2 separate regions of the Homo sapiens genome follow, and region 2 is linked to region 1. Evidence: fine-mapped expression QTL. A gene starts in region 1. The other region holds a variant in brackets. All regions are shown on one strand. Distances are between the middles of the regions. Region 1 holds the start of LPCAT2 (lysophosphatidylcholine acyltransferase 2). Region 2 overlaps LPCAT2 (lysophosphatidylcholine acyltransferase 2).

What was found.
Region 2: its variant is fine-mapped to the expression of LPCAT2 in whole blood (TOPMed, PIP 0.94).

What each region holds. Positions count from the first base shown.
Region 1 is chr16:55,504,811-55,512,810 of GRCh38, forward strand. LPCAT2 (lysophosphatidylcholine acyltransferase 2) reads left to right here and starts at 4,262. Exons shown (of 14, transcript NM_017839.5): 1 at 4,262-4,542. The coding sequence starts at 4,372. MMP2 (matrix metallopeptidase 2) reads left to right here. Exons shown (of 13, transcript NM_004530.6): 13 at 529-1,881. The coding sequence ends at 632.
Region 2 is chr16:55,532,577-55,540,576 of GRCh38, forward strand. It overlaps LPCAT2 (lysophosphatidylcholine acyltransferase 2), which reads left to right. Exons shown (of 14, transcript NM_017839.5): 6 at 248-306; 7 at 1,867-1,901; 8 at 5,002-5,056. Among named protein-coding and RNA genes, the nearest start is that of LPCAT2, 28 kb to the left of the region's middle. The variant G/A (reference allele first, on the strand shown) is at 3,737.

The DNA.
Region 1 (8,000 bases):
CCCGGCTAATTTTTTGTATTTTTAGTAGAGACGAGGTTTCACCATGTTAGCCAGGATGGTCTTGATCTCCTGACTTCGTGATCTGCCCGTCTCGGCCTCCCAAAGTGCTGGGATTACAGGCGTGAGCCACCGCGCCCCGCCACAGTTGAGTTTTTTTTTTGGCGGGGGGACAAGGTCTTGCTCTATCACCCAGGCTAGAGGCACAATCATAGCTCACTGCAGCCTCGAACTCCTGGGCTTAAGCGACCCTCCCACGTCAGCCTCCTAAGTAGCTTGGACTACAGGAATGTACCACTATACCCAGCTAATTTAAATATGTTTTTCGTAGAAATGGGGGTCTCTCTATGCTGCCCAAGCTGGTCTCGAACTCCTGGGCTCAAGCAATCCTCCTGCCTCAGCCTTTCAAAGCTCTCTTCTCGTTTAAAAGCTTCTTCCCTATGCCAGGCAGAAATTCAAAGTTCCCAGGAACCTTCTGTGTGCCAGAATGTCAGGATAAGGGGGTCACGGTCTCTTCTTTCTCTATCCCAGGTCACAGCTACTTCTTCAAGGGTGCCTATTACCTGAAGCTGGAGAACCAAAGTCTGAAGAGCGTGAAGTTTGGAAGCATCAAATCCGACTGGCTAGGCTGCTGAGCTGGCCCTGGCTCCCACAGGCCCTTCCTCTCCACTGCCTTCGATACACCGGGCCTGGAGAACTAGAGAAGGACCCGGAGGGGCCTGGCAGCCGTGCCTTCAGCTCTACAGCTAATCAGCATTCTCACTCCTACCTGGTAATTTAAGATTCCAGAGAGTGGCTCCTCCCGGTGCCCAAGAATAGATGCTGACTGTACTCCTCCCAGGCGCCCCTTCCCCCTCCAATCCCACCAACCCTCAGAGCCACCCCTAAAGAGATACTTTGATATTTTCAACGCAGCCCTGCTTTGGGCTGCCCTGGTGCTGCCACACTTCAGGCTCTTCTCCTTTCACAACCTTCTGTGGCTCACAGAACCCTTGGAGCCAATGGAGACTGTCTCAAGAGGGCACTGGTGGCCCGACAGCCTGGCACAGGGCAGTGGGACAGGGCATGGCCAGGTGGCCACTCCAGACCCCTGGCTTTTCACTGCTGGCTGCCTTAGAACCTTTCTTACATTAGCAGTTTGCTTTGTATGCACTTTGTTTTTTTCTTTGGGTCTTGTTTTTTTTTTCCACTTAGAAATTGCATTTCCTGACAGAAGGACTCAGGTTGTCTGAAGTCACTGCACAGTGCATCTCAGCCCACATAGTGATGGTTCCCCTGTTCACTCTACTTAGCATGTCCCTACCGAGTCTCTTCTCCACTGGATGGAGGAAAACCAAGCCGTGGCTTCCCGCTCAGCCCTCCCTGCCCCTCCCTTCAACCATTCCCCATGGGAAATGTCAACAAGTATGAATAAAGACACCTACTGAGTGGCCGTGTTTGCCATCTGTTTTAGCAGAGCCTAGACAAGGGCCACAGACCCAGCCAGAAGCGGAAACTTAAAAAGTCCGAATCTCTGCTCCCTGCAGGGCACAGGTGATGGTGTCTGCTGGAAAGGTCAGAGCTTCCAAAGTAAACAGCAAGAGAACCTCAGGGAGAGTAAGCTCTAGTCCCTCTGTCCTGTAGAAAGAGCCCTGAAGAATCAGCAATTTTGTTGCTTTATTGTGGCATCTGTTCGAGGTTTGCTTCCTCTTTAAGTCTGTTTCTTCATTAGCAATCATATCAGTTTTAATGCTACTACTAACAATGAACAGTAACAATAATATCCCCCTCAATTAATAGAGTGCTTTCTATGTGCAAGGCACTTTTCACGTGTCACCTATTTTAACCTTTCCAACCACATAAATAAAAAAGGCCATTATTAGTTGAATCTTATTGATGAAGAGACTGATGGCTCAAGAGAAGTGATTTTTCCAGGGTCCCATAGCTATTAGGGACCTACAAGGCCAAAGGATAGCCTAGCAGAGGAGCTTTAGCTCTCAAACCAGAATCTCACCACCCTCCGCCACCCTCAAAAACACCCCCACCACCTTCAAAACCGCTCCTGCTACCCTCCACCACCCCCAAAACCACGCTGGGTAAACACAGCTAAGGGAGAAATACTGTGCTTGCTTCTAAACACAGCTGGTATTAATGGATAAGCTCCTTACTCCTTCCTACCAGTCTACCCACTCCTAATCTCCTACATAGAAATTCTGGAGCTACTGCTGAACAGAAATTGAAGGCCTGGGGTTTTTCTGAGGCCCTTTCTGGCTCCGATAGTCTGATTGATAGTATATATATTGCTTCTGGCCTCTTATGATGGGGCTGGTGAGGAAGGTGCGTAAGGAGTGAACTCTACAGGTGACCTCCTCAGTGAGCCTGATGTCATTGTTTCTATCTCTTTTTTCTGTTTTTGAGATGGAGTCTCACTCTGTCACCCAGGCTGGAGTGCAATGGCGCAATCTCGGCTCACTGTAACCTCTGCCTCCCAGGTTTAAGTGATTCTCCTGCCTCAGCCTCCCAAGTAGCTGGGATTACAGGTGCACGCCACCATACCCAGCTAATTTGTTTTGTATTTTGGTAGAGACAGGTATCACCGTGTTGCCCAGGCTGGTCTCGAACTCCTGAGATCAGGCAATCCACCCATCTCGGCCTCCCAAAGTGCTAGGATTATTGGTGTGAGCCACCACTCTCGGCCCCATCTTTTCTATCTTTTATCCTCCCATGGCCTGTCCCCTTGACTCAGATTCTTTTTGTTTCTTCTTCTTCTTTTTTTTTCTTTTTTGAGACAGTGTCTTTCTCTGTCACCCAGGCTGGAGTGCAATGGCATGATCATAGCTCACTGCAGACTTGATCTTCTGGGCTCAAGCAATCCTCCCACTTCAGCCTCCTGAGTAGCTGGGACTGCAGGCATGCAACAGCACAGCCAGCTAATTTTTAATTTTTTTTAGAGATGGTGGAGTCTCTCTTTGTTGCCCAGGCTGGTCTCGAACTCCTGGGCTCAAGGGATCCACCCTCCTCAGCCCCCAAAGTGCTAGGATTACAGGCGTGAGCCACTGCACCTGGCCTGGCTTAGGTTGTTGACAGTTGGAAAGACATCTTTCTGTGCAGGTATCTGGCTAAAGAGTCTCAAGGGTCTGCCAGTCCCAACTTGAAGACCCCCTAGACTGGGGAATCTTCTATCATGGCTGTAATGCACTGTTATTAATGTTCCCTGTTACACTGAGAGAAAAGTCAGTGGCTCCACAACATAATAATGCTTAAAACATGCCATTTCTTCAGTGTTTCTCTATGAACACTACACATGCATTATTTTATTTAATCCTTGCTACAATTCTATGGAGTTAGAATGAATCTCCCATTCCTAGACAAGGAAGCAAACTCAGGTTAAGTGACTGACTCAAGGCCACACATCTATGTGGTAGGGCTGGAAGATTCTGACATTCAGAGGGTAACTTTGGAGAACCCCAGGGCTCAGACTCAGATTTTCATCCTGGCCTTCCTACCTGCTGTGAGAAGAGTTGATCAGTTGGGATGAGTTGATTATCATCTCCTTCCTTTAACTCTCAGCCACTCAGGGTTGATCAACTGTCCTCAGATAATGGGACAAACCCCTGCCCTCCCACCCCCACGAGCACCCACATAGGTCCAAACAGGCTTGAACTTCCTCAGTGTGAAAGGGAGCCACAGCCCAATACATTTCCCTTTTCTGGGTCAGGTTCCTCATCTAGCGTGGAGGGCAACTGTAATTTTTGCCTTTTCTGGTAATAGTAGCTCAGTTTTCCTCTGGAGAACCATCTCTCCCCTGTCAGTCCATTATGTTTTGAGTGAAACAAATTCCACTCCTAGTGCCATCATGGGTGTATTAATATTAGCTCACTTAATGGAACAGCCCAGGGGAAGTGGTTGCTCAATGGCATTACTGGATCCAGGTTAGGATTATCTGAGAATACATTTATCTGCATTTTACGGAAGGCAACCGAGGTTCATAGAGATAGTGATTTGGCCAGCGTCACAGGCCCAGTAAAAGGGATTGAAAATCCAGGTCCGTCCGACCCTAAAGCAGGGAACTCTGCCTAGTGTCTCGCTGTGGAATGTTAGGGATCCTGGGGTACCCTTCAGGGTCTTGGCTCGGAAGGAAAACATTCCCCTCCGAGGGGATGGACTATATTACCAAGGGGGTGGAGCCAGATGCCTGAGGGGGTGTGGCCAGAGCCTGGGGCGTGTCACAGCCGAAGGGGCAGGGCGGCAGCAGCAGGCGTCTAAGTAACTTCAGCGCCTGCGCAGAGGCTCCCCAGCGTCGCCCTAGGCTGGGACTCTAGTAGGTCTTCGGCTCAGTTTTGGCTGCAGCGCCCGCGTAGATCGCTTCGGCCGGGTTCTACGCCCGGCTCAACTATGAGCCGGTGCGCCCAGGCGGCGGAAGTGGCGGCCACAGTGCCAGGTGCCGGCGTCGGGAACGTGGGGCTGCGGCCGCCCATGGTGCCCCGTCAGGCGTCCTTCTTCCCGCCGCCGGTGCCGAACCCCTTCGTGCAGCAGACGCAGATCGGCTCCGCGAGGCGGGTCCAGGTGAGGGGCGTGGGTCTGAGGGGAGAGGTGGTCTGAGGGGGGCCTAGGTCAGAGGGGGGTCCAGGTAAGGGGTGTGGGTCTGAGAGAGGAGGGCGGCCGAGGGGGGCGTGGGTCTGAGGGAGTGAGGTGGTCCGAGGCGGGCGAGAGTCTGAGGAGGGAGGTGGCCTGAAGGGGGCATGGGTCTGAGGAGGGAGGTGGCCCGAGGGGAGCCAGGGTCTGGGGCGGGTCCAGGTGACTGGTGTAGGTCTGACGGGGGAGGGCGGTCGAGGGGCGCGTGGGTCTGAGGGGCGTTGTGGGTCTGGGAAGCAAAGGCATCAGAGGAAGAAAGAGCAGTGGATCTGAGAGGAGAGGACTTCTGAGGGGCCGTGAGCCTGAAAGGGGCGGAGATGTGTGTCTGAGAATTGAGGACATTTAGAGGATGGTCTGAGCGGGCACGGGAGGAGAGAAGATGCTGGGAAGATGCGGGCCTGAGAGGAGAATCCAAAACAGGAAGAGACTGAGCTGGCTGGTGGCGCAGGCTACATTCCATGCCCCAGAAGGTTGAAGGAATCTGTGAATCTGTGACAGAAGCTTCAACTTGAGTTTATGAGAGTGTAGTGGGAGGCAGATCTACTACGGGAGAGTAGATTTGAAGAAGTCTTTTTTTTTTTTTTTTTGCCTTAGGAAGGAGAGGAGTCAGTATGGGATGGATAAGAGTGAGGCAGAAGGCAGAGAGCCTAGGTCTGTGGTTAGAACAACAGGTAAGGCTGGAAAGATTTAGCTGAGCAGGAGCATGATGGAGGGTGGGAAGTCAGAATCAAAGAAAAGGGACAACTGAGTCAGCTTAGGATGTTCAAGAAGTTTTGGTCCAGAATCAGTCTTCACCTAAAAACGTTTCCTAAGTTGAAGCATGAGAAGTAGTAGCCCAGGCTGTTTTCCATTGTTAAAAATGGCTATACTGTTATGCACAAAGGAAGTTTCCTTTCCTTTCCTTTTTCTTGTAAAGGGTTCCTTTTACCATTGGCAGTTGCACTCTTTGGACTTCCTCTTTGTTGAAGTTAGTGATCAGAGAACAAGATAGACCCTGCTAACCACATTTGTCCGTGTGTTCTGCGGGGGTTGGGGGGGTGGGGGAACAATTTTGAAGTTTTCATGTCCATCTCACACATTACTTTGGATTTGAAGCAGTATAATATTTGCAATCAGCTTGTATGCACTAAGACCATTGTCCTCTACAGTGGGGGAAGGTTAAGTGCAGAGCTAAACAACACAGGTGGTGGCTTGAGTAATGGTAGATGGGTGTCTGGTTGAAGAGGGGTGTGAGAGAGGAAGAAGATAAAGAATGTAGTAATACTGCTTTGTGAGGAAATTAAACGTTTAAAAATGTGATCCTCATGTCTTTAAATTAATAGATATTCTTTTTGTGTCTTCACATTCTGAAACATTTGTAAATACATAGACCATTGTTCAAGATTAAATTTAGTCTGATTTAATTAAATCATACTTAAATGAAAATATGCCCATCTATTTGACTTCATATTTTGGAAAGAAACAGCATGGAATGTTGACAAATATTTATATTGCACCTATAATAAATTATTAAGTTTTTCCATCACCTGGTTTGTTACTGTTTAAAGATCTCTTCCAAATAACTCTCTGAGAGTTATAGTATAATGGAATGATAGCTAGTCAGTTATAGGAACTGGTCATTTATTAGTTGTATGACTTTGGCCAAGTCACTTAACCTCTCTGAACTATACTTTTCTCGTCTATTACATTGGAATATTAATAACTCAAAGGAGGGCTACAATTAAGTGAAATAATCTGTTATTGTTTGTTGATCTTAATATTGATAATATTGATAGTTATCCTATATATTTTCTACAAAGTATATACTGTACTTAAAATTTACTACTTGGATTAAATGGGATTTAACAAAGTCTGGATATTAAAAATACTTTTTAAATTTATATAGATCAGAGATACAAGAGGTTTCAGTGGCTTGAATCATCTGGGTAAAGGGAAGATTTGAATAGGCATGGTAGAAAAACAATGTCCATATTATCCAGTTTAAAAGGTGGACACACTTTCATTTAAGTATGACTTAGTATGATTAATTTAGACTAAGTTTAATCTTAAATGATGATCAATGTCTTGCTTAAGGACTGTTGTCCTCACATTTCACTAAGATAGTTAAACAAACAAGTACAAAAATATATAATCTCATGTTTTAGTAAGTGTAATGAAGGAAAACCAGAGAATAACACTGAGAGAAGGCCACCCAATGGAGATGACATATTACCAAATGGAAATATGATGAATTCTCTTAATTTGTCAATGAGTTAACTCAAAATTGATTTACTGTTAGACACTATTATTTGTTGCAAACCTTGAAGATGGCACAGAAAAAAAAGTTGCCTAATATTTTGCAACTTGTTCAATTAAAATCCATATGGGTTGCTCAGTGTAGACATGAGTGACTCTTATGCTAATATACTTTAAACTCATTCCAACTCTTTCTTCAGGGTCTATGCTATATGGTCCTTTCTTTCAGTCAAGATTATTGCTTGTTTTTTAATAATGATACCTCTTTGAAGAGAATCTCAGCCAGTGACCTACCAGAGTGACTTGGGAATTTGAGTCGTCTCATCTTCTCCACAGTACTCTTCCCCAGTATACCACCATACTTCATTGCACCACCATTCAAATAAATATAACATTAGCTAAAAATAGTGTGCTTACCATGTACACAGAGCTTCAAGAAAAATCTCCTGGATCCAAGATCCCTTCTATATTATAGTTCTGAAACTCCTACTCATCTTACCTAATACGTATTCTGTTTTATAGGAAATAAGACTGATAGCATAAGTTTCATTATATTTGTAAGTCAGTTTTCAAGTGAATAATAATAATTTAACAGGACTAGTTTTAGTCTCAGGAATGGTGGAGTAGCTCAATGTAGACAATGTAGACAAACAATTATAAACCCTAGTCAAAATATGAAAAACTACACGAAGGCACTATAGAGCAACACAAATCAGACAGAAACTGGAGGGATTTGTTTCTTGAAATAATACTTCTATACTGTGTAACATTACCCCAGCCCCTTTTTTTCCCTGAAGGTTATCACTTGACACCACATGAAGGGATTGCTAGAAAGCCTCAGCCTTATTGATTGACATGATATATCAGAGCACAAAGTTCAAGACTATCAAAGTGACTAAAAATCGAAGGTGGAAGTCCCAGAAAGGAGGAAACTAGAAATGAGGGAGCCCCTAAATTGGCATATAAATGATCTCAAAACCTTGGCCGATTCCTGAGCTGTGTATTTACAAAGGAGCCTTCAAGGACTCTGGAGGAAAGTAACAGCTGGAAGGAAGAAGAAACTGAGCAGACATTTCAACTGATAGACACCACAGGGAAGGCACAGTTAGAATCCCACCAATTAAGGGGGCCTTGGCAAACATCTCAGGCTTTAC
Region 2 (8,000 bases), 28 kb after region 1:
AATGAATAAACAAATATTTTAAGTGGCATAGGCACAGCATTTAATATTTTGCTTCAGTAGTTCTTAATTAAAAAAAAAAAATCCCTCATTTTGGTAAGCACTAGGGATTTACCAACATTTAGCAAATGATTTCTGTTACACATACTCTTAAAATATTCAGTCTATTTATACTATTTATTAATTTTCTCTTTATCATAAAACTTTTATTCACATAAAAACACATTATAAACTTTCAATGTGGTTGCAGGAGCCTTCATTCCAGGAGTTCCAGTGCAGCCAGTCCTCCTCAGATACCCAAACAAGCTGGTAAGCACAGTATTTTACCACAGGAAGAATTTCAGTATTCCAAGTAGCACAGATTCTCTGGGACCCCTTTTAATATATAAATAAGGTTGTGAACAGATAAATGGTGGAAGCAAATGGGAGAGCTCATTCTGCTCGCCACATCTAGTTTTTAAAATTTTGCAAGATAGGCACATATCCATTGATACCAATATTAAATATTATTTTGCTATTACTGAACTTCAGGAAGATATTTTCTTAGCCTTTACTCTGTTGTCACCATGTTGGTGTGATTAATTCCCAGATTAGGGTCTCATTAGAATGAATAGTTAAAAATCTGTGATTTTCATTAACTCTAGAAAGAAATTTTTCCTGACTCAGTGGTCATTACTAGTGAAGAAGTATTGAAATAGCAGGATAAATATTAAAGAGGCTTGGTCTTTCATTACTGCCTCAGTACTTACTAATTGTGTGAGCCTTGGTAGTAAGTAACTTAATTAAATAAGAAAATACCTGAGAAAACTTAACATCTTTTTTTGTTTTTCGGGTTTTTTTTTTTTTTTTTTTTTTGAGACAGAGTCTTGCTCTGTCATCAAGGCTGGAGTACAATGGCGTGATCTTGGCTCACTACAACCTCCGCTTCCTGGGTTCAAGTGATTCTCTCCTTTCTCAGCCTCCCGAGTAGTGGGGATTACAGGCATGTGCCACCATGCCCGGCTAATTTTTGAATTTTTAATAGAGACAGGGTTTCACCATGTTGACCAGGCTGGTCTTGAACTCCTGACCTCAAGTAATCCACCTGTCTTGGCCTCCCAAAGTGCTGGGATTACAGGCATGAGCCACTGCATCTGGCCTAGCTTAACATATAAAGTCCAGAGTTGACTCAGGAAGTAGTCTCTTCTGTTCCAGTTGGGTACATTGTTGTCCTCTAAATATTGATTTTACCACCATTTTCCTAAAGAAAGATTTTTGAGGGAATGTTTTGGTTCTGAGAGGAACTTTCTTTACTAGAGAATTTATATTAAAAGCCAGGATATAATTATTAGTTATCTCTACTATTTAATATTAAGGGTTATTGATCAAATCAGTTTTCTATTTAGAGGCTGGTTTTTCAACCTTGGACATCTATGGTTAAAAAAAGAATTAAAATCTATCAAACTTTTATTTGTTGTACTTCTGCCCATAGGTTTGAGTTTATTGTATGTTCATATTATTTTATTTCCCCCAAATAAGCTTTTTTTTGAAAACGGATATATTCTGAGTTTTTTGTAATCAAATTAATTATCCAGATATGTTCATATTAGGAGAAAAGTGGCTAAGCATGTAAAATAGTTTTTAAAAAATTAAAACAAGTCATTTCATCAAAAGTTGTTGACATTAGGAAGATCTTTGCTATGTAGATATGTAATCCAAGAATTCATAGATCAGTTCACTGTTCTTTAACAATAATGTATTTATTTTACTTCTCAACATGTTGCTTTTAATTTCAGAAAAAATACATGAATCCCCATATTAAAATAAGATCTTTATTTTATTTAGTATTTTTCCTCCAGACCAACAGCTAAAATAATTTTGTTATTATAGGATACTGTGACCTGGACATGGCAAGGATATACATTGTAAGTCACTTATGTCTATTATTAGTTTATATAAATTTTATTTTAGTGAAGAAAAAGAAAGATCATTTATTCATTCTTTAAAAAAGTATTATTTTAAAAATATTGTTATATTTAAAAACATAAAGATTTCTGATCAGAGCCCTAAGTCTTATAACTGATAAGTCTCTGTAGAGAGCATCACTATCTTGACCACTAACCCCTGGAGTCTTCTGTGTGCAAAATTCTAGTCATCTGTCCCATTCAAATGGGTCTCAAGTGTTTGCTAGTTCGTAAGTGACCTAGTTTGCATCATAGTTAGCTTTAATTTTGTAGTTTTATTTCCATTGCAGATTTGGCATTATCTAGTGTCTCTATCCTTACTTACTATGTTGGTTTAAGCCATTCAGAAAAATTTAGTCATATGGCCTGAAATAGCTATGATGTGTCTGATATGAGTTGAAAAAATAGCTAACCAAGATTTCAGTTCTGCTCTTGGATTTGAAAAGCATTGGAATCAGCAGTTTCTATAAGCACTTTACTTAAGAGAGAAGAGGAATACAGTTTCATTATTAAGCAAGCTGATGTGAAGTAGGCCTTTAAAAAGAACAGAACATGTAGAAACTTGGTTTCTCTCAAGATCGTTTGTTTAGTTCCCTCTGAATAAGTCTGAGCCTGTTTAAATTTTGGTGAGAGCCGTATGAAATACCTGAATTTGAAGACTTCCTTTAGGGTCTTACCCAGTTTTCATATTGTTAAGCACAAAGCTCAGATAACATTGTTGATGGGTAGGTGACAATAACTTGGAAATATTTAAGGAAATCATCAGTTGCCTTAAGCACATTGTAGGCTTTTTTAGATAACTTCAACGTAATCCAACCAACTTCTGAAATCAAAACTGCATAATTTCTCCATTTTGTGTATATATACATTGCTTTGAAATAATAAATTTAAATCAGAATAGGTAACTGATGAGACAGTAGAATAAATATTAACACATATGAAACACTTATATTCTTGTTATGCTTCAGTCCTTGATAATTGAAGATACACAAATAACGCCAAACATAAAGAACATAAATTGTAAAGGATATCTAAACAGCATATTATCTTTCACTTACCAGGAAATCAATTTATTCATTTGACTAAAATACATGTTTCATGCCATTACTTATTTTGAATTCCTGATTGCTTTTAGACATGGAAGAATTGGGAGAAACAGGTAGTATGAAAGTATTTGGGAAAACGAAGTGCCTTAACAATGGATGCATAGCATACTTCCACTTTCTGAGGTGTGCCATCCTTTGGGCCTTTACAGGTTAAGTTCCTTACAGAGATAGTGATGTGGCCAATAGGACTTTTTTTGGTTGCCCAGCAGTCCAGGTTAATGTGATGATCAAATAGGAGAAAGCTTTTCTGGAAGAGGAACTGGGGATAGAAAATATAATAGACGGGTTTAGTTAATCTAGCCTTCTCAACTGAGAAGTATGTGAGAAGAGGAAAAGGAAATTAGGAGAAAGAATTCAGGAATGAAAGGGAGAAAAAATATTTTGAGAGTCAAAAATTTTTCAGGACTTTTAAACAAACACAAAATCTTTGAAAGGCACAGCTTTGTTTTGTTCAATCTATTGCAAATCTCACGTCCACTTTTGTCTTCTCATCTACTTAATATTATTAGCACTGTGTCTGTTACTTCTAAATCTGTTTTCTCAATTGCCCTTGCTCAAAGTGCTACTCCAGTTACAGATTCTAAGAAACAGATTTTATACCAAAACGAATATCCCAAGGAAAAGGAGACTTGGAATAAACTTAGAGAAGTTTTGTATCAGACTAAGAAGTATTTGGTCTGTCTGTAGGGT[G/A]GACAAGACAGGTTAAATGAGATTTTATGTGTGGTTTCATATTTTTCACAGTATTCAGAATTTTCAGAATAGAATGCATCTATTCAAGTAATTGAATTCCACAGCTCCATTTAAATAATTAAAAACAACTTATGCTAGATAGTGTGGATTGACTTTAGAGTTTATAGATAGTAAAAGATTTTTTTCTTTCAAATGGAAGATTTGTGAACTGACACATTAACAATTTATAATTAATTATGAAAGTGATATATCTACTTTCTAAATTATTTCTTTTAACTAAATTCTTAAGCTCCTACATTCCTTAAATAAGTTCCCTCAGGTAATTTTTACAGATAAATTATGTTTTAATTTCTTAACAGTGAAAAGAGATTGGTTGGTTCTTTTTTTAAATGTGTAGTTTAATCCATTCTGCCTGGTTTCTGGGTCAATTGTCTAATGAGACTAAACTAAAAATCCAGTAGAAGTCTTATCCAGAGAGTCTAAATATGTACTGGAAAGCTATAAGTAGGAACAACTATTTCAAACATTATCTTTTAGAGGGTTGCTTAACCACTTTAAAGACAGCATTTGCCTGCCTTTACAATGAAATTTGAAGCTTTTCAGATTTCCTCATAACTAAAACATTTATTAATAACTGGGACAATTTTGATAAAGCTTCCACTTTTAAGGAAAGGCCCATTGATTTTTTTTAATGTCAAAAAACAGTTCAGAAATGTAATGATCTACCTAGGAGTTTTATAAACACATTTACATACCTTAAAATGTGGCCTTGGGTAGTTTCTCTAGAGACTTGGGCCTTTGAGTCTGTGTTGTCAAGGAAACTTCAAATTTGTGGTTTAGTCTGTTGAGCTGAGGCTCTGACTGAAATACATATTTGGTATTCATTTGATGATTTAACTTTTGAATAATAATTGTCAAGAATACTTGTCTAAGCCGGGCACAGTGGCTCACACCTGTAGTCTCAGCTACTTGGGAGGCTGAGGTGGGAGGATCACCTGAGCCCAGGAGGTTGAGGCTGCAGTGAGCCGTGATTATGCCACTGTACTCCAGACTGGGTGACGGAGTAAGACCCTGTCCCCAAAAAAAAAAAAAAGAATAGTTGTCTAGGCCCAAAAAGTGTTATAGCTGCAGTGTAGCATTTATAAATGCAAAATATATGTGAAGTGTGATGTGAGGGTATTTGTGTATAAAGAAATGATTGTTGAATAATATAAGATGATACTTGCATGACTGTATAAAGATAGACTTTTCTTTTTTCTCTTCAGCATTCAGCTTTGTATGCTTACTTTCTGCCAGCTCTTCACAAAGGTAGAAGTTGAGGTAAGTCATTCAAAATGTGGCCTTGGAACTTGAGATTTGGCCTTTCCTTTAATTTTGAACCTCTAGTCTAGAGAGACCAGATATAAAGGTCCATCACCAGGTGTTTTACAAATTGTGTATATAAACCTAGGCTGTCAGATTTAGCCCTTGAAATCATGTTAGAAAACACCTCTAGATTCTGGGAACTTGAAACATGTAACCACCCTGGCTGGCCAGAGGGGCATCACCTTGCTCTCATCTTTTTACTCCTTTAATGCTGACCTCTGCCAAATTGAATGATATATTTTCACATCCTGACAAAAGGAACTGACCATAGCTGATAGAGCCCCACACCTCCTTAAAGAAAATGTTTTGTGAAAGCTAAGAGATGCTACTTGGGGTCTAGGGGAGAGACATAGAGGTCAGAAGCCTTCACTGTGAAATCACCCTGCACATGAAAAGCCCAAGGAAATTCTATCTGGGAGGCAGCACATATCATCATCCACAGGACAGTCTTTTGGTTTGAATTACAGTGGCAGGTAGTGAGAGAGGAGTTATTACAACATTCTGAAAATTTTGACCAGGTTTTTAAGGCTCTAAAGGTTGGTTCTAGAGCTGTTCTTAGTTTCTAGATATGATGTAGAGTAGAACCCTGAATTCAGCATCCAGTCGGTTTTAGCAGTACCCTCAGGTAGTCTCCGAAGAGAGATGGTTTGATAATGGGTCTCCTAGATTTTCTAATTGCATCCATGGATTGTGTAACGAAAACCTTAAGTTTGCCTGTGTCATGCAGAGTTCTGAGTGGGGTCTAGTGCCTAAGTGACAGGACTGTGGAATTTAATTCACAAGAATACTATTTTGCTTTGCTAGATAGCTTAGTGATTTGGCCATTTAGAGACTGTCAGTAATACCAAATGATTTAGGAGGGCAAATTACATTTCAGAATGAGTTTTGTGAAATTTTCTTGAGATTTGCATGTTTTCTGCCTGTCTTGAAAATATCTGTTTATTAATTATATTTCATACACCCCCACTTTTAAAACCAGTTCAGTTATCTCTCACTGTGGCCAAAAAAAAAAAAAAAAAAAAAAAAGAAAACCCACACTTGTTCTTGGGTTTTTCTTAGAGGTTCCTGGGGAACAAAAACTAATTTAATAACATTTGGAAGTATCAAGGGAAACAAAATGAATTTTTTTTTTCTCAAGACTACTCAGTGCCTTTGAAATGTCTGACTTACAGAACCTTTTTCTCTAGATATCTCCCGGAACCAGTGTTCTATAGAATACACTTCAGGAAGCCTTATATCATAATATTTCTAAATACTCTGAGCACTGCTCTTGCTTCTTTAATAGCTGCTCAGGTAGTCTAGGCCTGTTTCACTTTTCTAAAAAAACAAGAAAACTCATACTTTAAAAAAGCCATGCTATCTTCTCTGCAAGATATTGTCTCTTCCTCTCAATGTACCCCTCTGTAGCTAAAACAAGATCTAGCAACACATGTAGAAATGTATACAAAGCTGTCTTTTTTGCCATAGCATGTCAGTGGTCAAACTGCATTACAACAGAGGTATTCAGATTCCTCTTTTTTTTTTTGTCATGACCATTATTACCACATTTCCTTTCTGTGTCATGGCTTTCTTTTTTTTTTTCTGTCTTTTTTTTTTTTAATTACGATATTTGCATTCTCCAGCCAGTTCTGAGACCTGTTTGGATCATATTTTTCTGGCAAAGAAAACAATGTATTCTTTGTTCCATAACTTCACAAATAAAATGACTTTCAGCTGCTTGAAAATAGCCGCGTCGACAGAGATTTGATGAATTAGAATCGTAGTGCAGAACAAGAGGATGGGAATTTGTGGACTTCAAATTTAGTACAAATATTCTTATTTTAATTATGTTTACTTTAAATTTATGACTCCCCCTTTCACCCAGGTGACTCCTAAATACTTTATGATATTTTAATATTTTAATACTCACTGTTGGATTTAACTGAAAATGTATCCCAGCAGCCCTTCAGGCACTAAGTATACCACACCCTGGCTTGAAGCTCTGTAAGAGCTGGGCCATCTCTGAGGCTCCAGCTTTTCCACTACGTCTGCTGAGGCCCAGCTTGAGATTGGTTTGTGGTCTCAGTACATTTAGTTGCTCCAGTTTCAATTGTCTTGGTTGTTCTCAAGTAACCCCCTTTTTTCTTTTTTTTTAAATTGATGGAAATCCTTGTTACTATCTTATTTTAAACATGTTTTTAGAACTTCTTGAATATTAGGTAAACCTAATTCAAGATATATTATTCAAGAATATGGTATTAATTTTATGGTTTTTCAAATGAACTTTGAATGAATTATCAAAGTGCCGTTTTAGACAGTCTTGCTTTTGTGAGTCACATGACACCCCATTATGTTGGCTGCCATATCCTTTAGTTTCACAAGTCTCCCCTCAGTAATCATGACTACCAAAGTCTTTAATTACCAAAATCATTAGATATCTAAGATATAATGAGTCTAATATTTAGGAATATTTTCTTACCACCTCTTCCCAGCCCTCTCTGCTTCCCAACATAGAGACATACAGTATTTTTGAAAAGGTTATTATTTTCTCGACTCTTGGATCTTAAAAATATAGTTAGTTCTAAACCTCATGTCCTGTGTAATTGTTCTTCTGGCATCCTTGAACAATGATGAAGTTGTCTGTCTACAGAATGGTTCTACTAAAAGTTATTCTTTGAATTCTAATGTGGCATAATGGGTGTTCTTAAAGTATCTTTTAGTCATACTTTTATTAACCAGCTGTTTCACAAGTATCCCTTTATAAGGATATGGCTTAGGGCATAGGGAATGAAATAGCTAGTAGGAAACATTACAAAATGTGACATGAATTAAGAGTCTGTTAGTTTATCTCATGAGAGAGAATACATGCTATGTCACACTATAAAGCACTAAGTGGGCCGCAGCTAGTTTATGAATGGAA